Linked DNA regions of Homo sapiens. The protein of the gene in region 1 purifies or fractionates together with the protein of each later gene. This does not show direct contact. Each region holds a gene or a part of one and is shown on either strand. Other genes may lie near its edges.

Evidence for each region.
Region 2: the proteins of PACS1 (region 1) and PTPRG purify together in Homo sapiens (affinity purification with mass spectrometry; one large-scale study listed by BioGRID and IntAct). This does not show direct contact.

The regions. Positions count from the first base shown.
Region 1 is NC_000011.10:66,230,498-66,234,522, forward strand, and holds part of PACS1 (phosphofurin acidic cluster sorting protein 1), read left to right. Parts: intron 1-50; coding exon 51-166; intron 167-307; coding exon 308-443; intron 444-1,674; coding exon 1,675-1,779; intron 1,780-2,462; coding exon 2,463-2,569; intron 2,570-3,287; coding exon 3,288-3,442; intron 3,443-3,634; coding exon 3,635-3,745; intron 3,746-4,025. UniProt on the Homo sapiens protein: Coat protein that is involved in the localization of trans-Golgi network (TGN) membrane proteins that contain acidic cluster sorting motifs.
Region 2 is NC_000003.12:62,271,571-62,275,070, forward strand, and holds part of PTPRG (receptor-type tyrosine-protein phosphatase gamma isoform 1 precursor), read left to right. Parts: intron 1-1,375; coding exon 1,376-1,511; intron 1,512-2,127; coding exon 2,128-2,274; intron 2,275-3,500.

The DNA.
Region 1 (4,025 bases):
TGGTCACTGAGTGGGAGGTCATCTTCACTGTTTCCTCTCCTCCATGGTAGGAAATCACTGACCAGGACATGTTTGGAGATGCCAGCACGAGTCTGGTTGTGCCGGAGAAAGTCAAAACTCCCATGAAGTCCAGTAAAACGGATCTCCAGGGCTCTGCCTCCCCCAGGTACTGCAGATGGAAAGGAAGCAGGGGGTACAGCCTGCAGCTGTGCTTAGCATGGGCTTCAGGGCTGAGGGAAAGCGGGGCTGGCAGCAGCTTTGGGGTTGGAGGGGCTATTTCACCAGCCTTTTTCCACCTCCCTGGCAGCAAAGTGGAGGGGGTGCACACACCCCGGCAGAAGAGGAGCACGCCCCTGAAGGAGCGGCAGCTCTCCAAGCCCCTAAGTGAGAGGACCAACAGTTCCGACAGCGAGCGCTCCCCAGATCTGGGCCACAGCACGCAGGTACTTCTGGGTGCCCCCAAAACACCAGGACCCTCTGAGATTCCCTGAACTTCAGGCTCTGTTTTGTTGGCTTCCTTGGACAGTTAGTTGGAGAGAAGAGGAATACTTGGAAATGCTCTGAACAAAAACTCTTGAAGAAAGACTAAATTAGAGAGGTCTCCTATATTCCTTGCTTACTGCCAGTGTGGAACTGGCTTCCACGCTGACCTCTAGGGCGCAGGCAGGGGAGCCAAAAACGCTGTGTGGTCGTGGCCTGCCACGGCTGCGAGTGTCGATTCCACACCACCGGTGTCTCTGCCTCCATCAGACGTCAGTCTGGAGATTGTGCCGTGAATCCACTGTTGCAGAGGACAGCAGCCTCTGGATCTCATGGGACATCCTGACCCGAGCTCCCAACCTGAGTATTGCTGTGGGCGGTCATCGTGCTTTCAAGCCGGGAAGCCAACAATATTAAACTGTTTCAATGGAAGGACCCGAGAGTGGGCTGGAGAAGAAGTCAGAAGAACTGGGCCTCAGGAATCGTGTTCTCCTTTTGAAGGCCTGTGGTGTCAGAGATCTGGGACAGGGATTTTCCCGGCACACCTTACACAGTTCCAGTTCTGCTAGGGTTAAACAGCCAGCCTGTTCATTCCCCTGATAACTTACCAAGTGCATTGTCAGTGTGGCCTCCTGAGCTCCATGCTATTACATGGCTGAAAATGAACTTGAGACTAGAATAGCCCAGTGCCTGGGGTGAGGTATTGTCCTTCTTGTTAATCACTGTTCCTGAAATACCTTTTGTTCCCTCAGACAGCAGGTACCCACACAGCACTCATTGCCACTCTCATTATTTCTCTCCCCACTGCCCTCGTTTCTGTTTCTCTGAGCACCTGCTGGCCGCCCTCTGCCTCTCCCTTCCTGGTTCTTACGCTGCTGCCCCTCCTGCCACCCACACCGTTTCCCATCCGCGAGGCTTGCTGCACCTCCATCCTCTCCACCTGCCCTGGCAGGACAACCGCTGTGGCTTTGTTCCTCATCTCCATGTGTCCTCTAAGGACTCGCTTTGCTGCTTCTTTCTCCTCCTTTCCATCGTGGTCTGGCCAGTGGGAGACTGAGTCTCCCTCCCAAAGTCCTGATATCTGTTCTCTCTAACACCCCTGCTCCAGAGACTCCCCATGCACCAGTCCAGCAGCCCTGTCCTCAGGCTCCCCAGGGACTCCCTAACAAGAGACACTTTCTTTTGTTCCTGCAGATTCCAAGAAAGGTGGTGTATGACCAGCTCAATCAGATCCTGGTGTCAGATGCAGCCCTCCCAGAAAATGTCATTCTGGTGAACACCACTGACTGGCAGGGCCAGGTAAGTGCTGAAACTGCGAGGCCATGTGGGGTCCTGGAGGGCAGGCAATGCCCGGTTGCATTGTCAGTGTGGCCTCCATACTATTGCGTGGGGAGGTGGGGAACTCACCCCTCCATCAGCCCCCACCTGCTCTGAACTGAGCCCAGAACTCTGAGTTCTAGTCCAACTTCTGTCATTATCCAACTTGTGGGATCTTAAATCACTAAGTTTGCTCTACCTCAGCTTCCTCATACGTTAAAAAACAAACAAACAAAAAGCAACAGTAATTCCTCCAGGGCGCCACATGCGTCAGGCAGCATAGTGGAACGGAGGCCTGTAGAGAAGCACCCGGCTGTAACCTCCAGGGCTGCCCCATGAAGGCAGGTCAGCAAGGCAGAGCATCCCTGCCTGCTCCCTCACCGCTGTCCACCTGGCTTAGACACTGGTGCCGGGGACACCTGGAGTGTCCTAGCATGTGAAACCCCCTAAGGCTTCCCATCTCTCACACTCTGCGTGTCTCGTGGGTCGGCCCCACCCCCTCCTTACTGGCAGTCCGGAGACCTGGCTGCCTTTGCCCAGCTTCGGTCTGAACTGCAGAGGACAGGGGCCCTGCAGCTCGGTCTGGGTCTCACTTGCCTCTTGGCCCTTGTGAAGGAGTGATGTGTTCTCACCTGTGTCCCTGCTCTCCTCCCTCCCTATCCCAGTATGTGGCTGAGCTGCTCCAGGACCAGCGGAAGCCTGTGGTGTGCACCTGCTCCACCGTGGAGGTCCAGGCCGTGCTGTCCGCCCTGCTCACCCGGATCCAGCGCTAGTAAGGGCTCTGGCCTCCCTTCTCCTGCCCTTAGAGATTCCCTCTGACCTCATCTTCCAACCCTGACTTCTAAGCAATGATAGACCCTCCTGGCCTCATCAGACCAAGAATTTGCAGAGGGGCGTATGTTTAGGGGGGTGGCGGCAGCAGGCTGTAGGGCTTGAGGCCCCGGCAGACCCCAGAGGATCGGGGGTGGAAATATCAATTCCTGTGCTCCCTGCCTCCCTGCCTGGACCCCCGCCATGCCTTGACTTGCTTTATCCTCTTAAACCCATGATGAAGGAGAGGACACACTGGTTTTAAAAAGATCTTTTATTCCTTCCATCTGCAACATGCTGCTAGACACTCAGGAGTCAGTGCTTCCCCTACCCTCAGGGCCTTCTTAAAAGGCCCAAGTCCCTTGCCCTTGTGAAAGAGAACTATGGATTCCAGGCCTGGGGGCACACACCCTGCGGGCATCCCAGGCACACTGCCGAGTCCTACGTTAGCCTCAGCTGTTCCGTCTGCTTCATGGGCAATGCCCTCTGACCCTGGATTTTTCTCTTGGTTGTGAAAGCACTGTGGCTTATTCCCTGTATGATCCTCTCTGTTTTATTTTGTGGATTGGTTTGCTTTTCCCCTGTGGGTTGTTGAGATCACAGAAAGTCAGCTCTGGGCCTCCCCCGGGCAGGATCCTGGCACCCCTGAGCACTGCTATGACGCTCCCCTTCCTCCCCAGCTGCAACTGCAACTCTTCCATGCCGAGGCCAGTGAAGGTGGCTGCTGTGGGAGGCCAGAGCTACCTGAGCTCCATCCTCAGGTTCTTTGTCAAGTCCCTGGCCAACAAGACCTCCGACTGGCTTGGCTACATGCGCTTCCTCATCATCCCCCTCGGTAAAGACGGGAGGCACCAGGAGGGCGTCGGGCATGAGGGTTCCATAGACAGATGCCTCATCTGGAACAGGACGGTGGGGTTGGGGCCTAGGAAGGGACAGTCAAGGAGACCAAGGCCGTGGCCAGGGACAGCTGCTCCCACACTGTCTCATCTCCTGACGAATTCACCACCTCTGGTTTTCCATCTACCAGGTTCTCACCCTGTGGCCAAATACTTGGGGTCAGTCGACAGTAAATACAGTAGTTCCTTCCTGGATTCTGGTTGGAGAGATCTGTTCAGTCGCTCGGAGCCACCAGTGTCAGGTAATGGCCCCGTGTAAGGAGCTTACTCCCACCCCCGGGGTCCACAGGTGCCAGCCTGGCTGCAGAAGGAGGCTGAGGTCATGCTGCTTTCCTCCCTGCAGCTCTCACCTTCCCGGTCACTCTGTCCATTCATTTTTCCATAAGTGTTTATTAAGCGGAGGCTCACTGTGCACAGCCCCTCCACTCTGCCAGTTTTCATCCTCTGCTATTTGCTCTGCTCCTGTTCATCTGGAAGGAACAAGGGCCATGCTGGCATAGTGGCCAGGGCGTCTCTAGTTGT
Region 2 (3,500 bases), on another chromosome or scaffold:
CAACATGTGAAATAGATGGGGCAGGGGACTTAGGCCTCAGTGACCTTGGACCACAATGATTGCTACTGCTTTCACTTAGAAGCTGAATCTTCCACTGGAAACTGGGATGGATAAGACCTATGATAGTCTTAAAGAGGCTCTATTCCTGTAACATTAAGAAATCATCTGCTGCTTCTGTGATTTTTAAAAAACTAGATCAATCCCTAGTTTTTATAAAATCTTCTTATTAATAATATCAGCCAGGCATGGAGGCCAACTCCTGTAATCCCAGCACTTTGGGAGGCTGAGGTGGGTGGATCACTTGAGCCCAGGAGTTTGAGACCAGCCTGGGCAACAAAGTGACACCCCATTTCTACAAAAATTAAAAATAAAAAAATTAGCCAGCATGGTGGCACATGCCTGTGGTCCCAGCTACATGGGAGGCTGAGACAGAAGGATCCCTTGAACCCAGTAGGTCAAGGCTGCAGTGGGCTGTGTTCACATAACTGCACTCCAGCCTGGGTGATGATAGAGCAAGATCATGACTCAAAAAAAAAAAGAAAAAATTACAAAATCCCCATTGTTTATAGGAAAATTGTAGCCTGATCCTAATAAATAAAAATATGACGTTAAACACAAGAACTTTCCACACTAGAATAGAGATTGTGTTTTTGTAAATGGCTTTTCTGAAAGGTTCTTCTAAATAACAATATTTATAGTATATATGAAAATATTTCATTTTTAAATTTTTAGTTTAAATGTTCCATATAAAATACCTTTTCAAAAGCACTGGGAAATCCTTGTATAAAGCTTGTTTTTTGTCAGCCACAGTAAATGACTTTAGTTGGTTGTTTAAAAATGCTTTTATTCTGTTTCATTTGAAAATGCATTCTTGCCTCTTTTTTGTTTGTTTTAAACTTTGGTACTCAAATACATGTCGCTTGTTCTGTGATTTATGTTGCAATGCTAAGTGAATAACGTACGTCATCTAAGGTTATCTAAGTGGGGTTTAGGCTGGGAGTGGTGGCTCACACATGTAATTCCAGCAGTTTGGGAGGCCAAAGTGGGCAGATCACCTGAGGTCAGGAGTTCGATACCAGTCTGGCCAACACGGTGAAACCTCTACTAAAGATAAAAAATTAGTCGGGTGTAGTGGTACACATCTGTAATCCCAGCTACTCGGTAGGCTGAGGCTCGAGAATTGCTTGAACTGGGAGGCGGAGGTTGCAGTGAACCGAGATTGCGCCACTGCACTCCAGCCTGGGCAACAGAGTGAAACTCCATCTCATCTCAGAAAAATAATAAAATAAATGGGGTTTAGATTGGAATTTTTCGAATCCAAAGTTAACAGTATGATAAAACAAAAGTGCCAGTTGAGTGTCTTCATTTCTTACAGTGCTGGTGTGGGCAGAACAGGCACCTATATTGTAATAGACAGCATGCTGCAACAGATAAAAGACAAAAGCACAGTTAACGTCCTGGGATTCCTGAAGCATATCAGGACACAGCGTAACTACCTCGTCCAGACTGAGGTAAGGAGTAGCTGCCAGCGTCCTCACGACATTCTGGCAAATGCTGTAACTGAAATTTGTTAAATGATAATGAAGAGACAGATTCATTCTTTTAGGGCTTGCAGTAATTTACAGGTTTGTATTAGAAGATATTCTGACAATGATCCTATTCTACGGATCACAGTTTTCCATTTCTGTATGGATCTTAACATTTGGATTCCTAAATAACTACACAAGTACTTACGAAAGAGATACAGTTGTTTCAAGAGCTGTGTTAGATGGTAGGGGGAGTTAAACATGTTGTCTGGCCTGAGAAATACATAGGAGAGGATGGTTCTAAAACCCTTCATTGAACACGATTTTTTGTTTGCTTATTGAGTTGAAGCAATAAGCACAGTATAGAATACCGTGATCCAGGCACAGTATAGAATACAGAGCTAAACTTAACACAGTCTCTACCGTAAAATAAGTTAAGACTGATAAAGTGAGTATTGGAGCAAATCACCTAGCTGTAAGTGCTTGAAGGAAATCACTGGGAGGTCCCTGTTAGCAGCAGAATTAAACTAAGGTACACTTCATGAATGAGTGGCTAACCCTTAACACTCCCTCAGTGACTACCATGTATTGTACCTCTTAGGAGCAGTACATTTTCATCCATGATGCCTTGTTGGAAGCCATTCTTGGAAAGGAGACTGAAGTATCTTCAAATCAGCTGCACAGCTATGTTAACAGCATCCTTATACCAGGAGTAGGAGGAAAGACACGACTGGAAAAGCAATTCAAGGTAGTGCTTTGAAAAAGTTTCTTTGGCATAAAGCAAGAAAATGTTTTAAATGCCTTGAGTTTGGGGGTTATGTCTTCTTTGCATTAATGTATACACCGAAATGGATTACTATTTGTACTCCTTGTACTCCTTAAATGTGATGAAAAAGAAAATACGGTTTTGACCTATGTATGAATTGTTGGTATTCAAGTAGATATACAGTGTTGTATTTTCTTCTGAGCAATTTATGACTTTATCTGAATATAAACATCAGCCCCTGGCCATAATGACATAGTACTTTAAAGTAACTCGTTTAGTCCAAAAAATGTCCTATTTTTTCTGAACTAATCTATCTTACCTTAATTATTAAGAATGATGACTTGTAGACATATTGTCCTAAAAATATGCCTATTTCAAAAACTATTTCAGAAGATAATTTAGGAATTTAAAAAGAATTACTAAACAATACTAGAGAAAAGTTAACTTTTCCTAAATGGTTGTTCTTTTTCTTTGATAGGGACATGAAGAAGCTTAAAAGCGGTTAAGGTTTATATGGAATTGACTGAAGTGAAGGTGAAAAAGAGAGATTATAAGGACTATTAAAATAATTAGGGCTCAGTCATCTGATAATAAATCAAAATTGCTTCTAACTTTCAAACATCGCCTGTCTCTCCAGTTACCAAGTGCTTTCCTATTTATCTTTGTCTTTTAAATTCTATTTTGCACATTGTTCTGTATGTAAATAGTTTCTCCCTTTGTATCAAGATTCAAAGAATGAGATGAATCTACAGTTTTAGTTTTCATGGTAAAACTTTCCATAGACTGAAACTTTCATTTGAATCTCAGCTGAAGAAATGAGACTGCCAAGCAAATTATACCAAGTGATATGAAATGAAAAATAGTTTAATTTCACTGAGTTCAGTCATAAAATTAAAAATTTTTAGCTCCCCATTAACATTCTACTATAAAACCATGAGATAATTAATAATGAGGACACAGTGTATCATTTTAAATGTTTAACATGAGTTCTTACAAAATATTAAGTACCAACATTTCTTAAATTCTGCCTTTTTCGTTTCTTCAATTTTTTTTTATACATACTTTAAAACTTCATTTAAGAAATGCGACCAGGTAGTTGGTTCTTTTACAGGCACTAACCATTTTAGAGCTCAAGATGAAGAAAAAAACAAGAATCAAACTTGAAAATGAAAATTATATCCAGGGACCATGAGTTTTACTAAAGCATC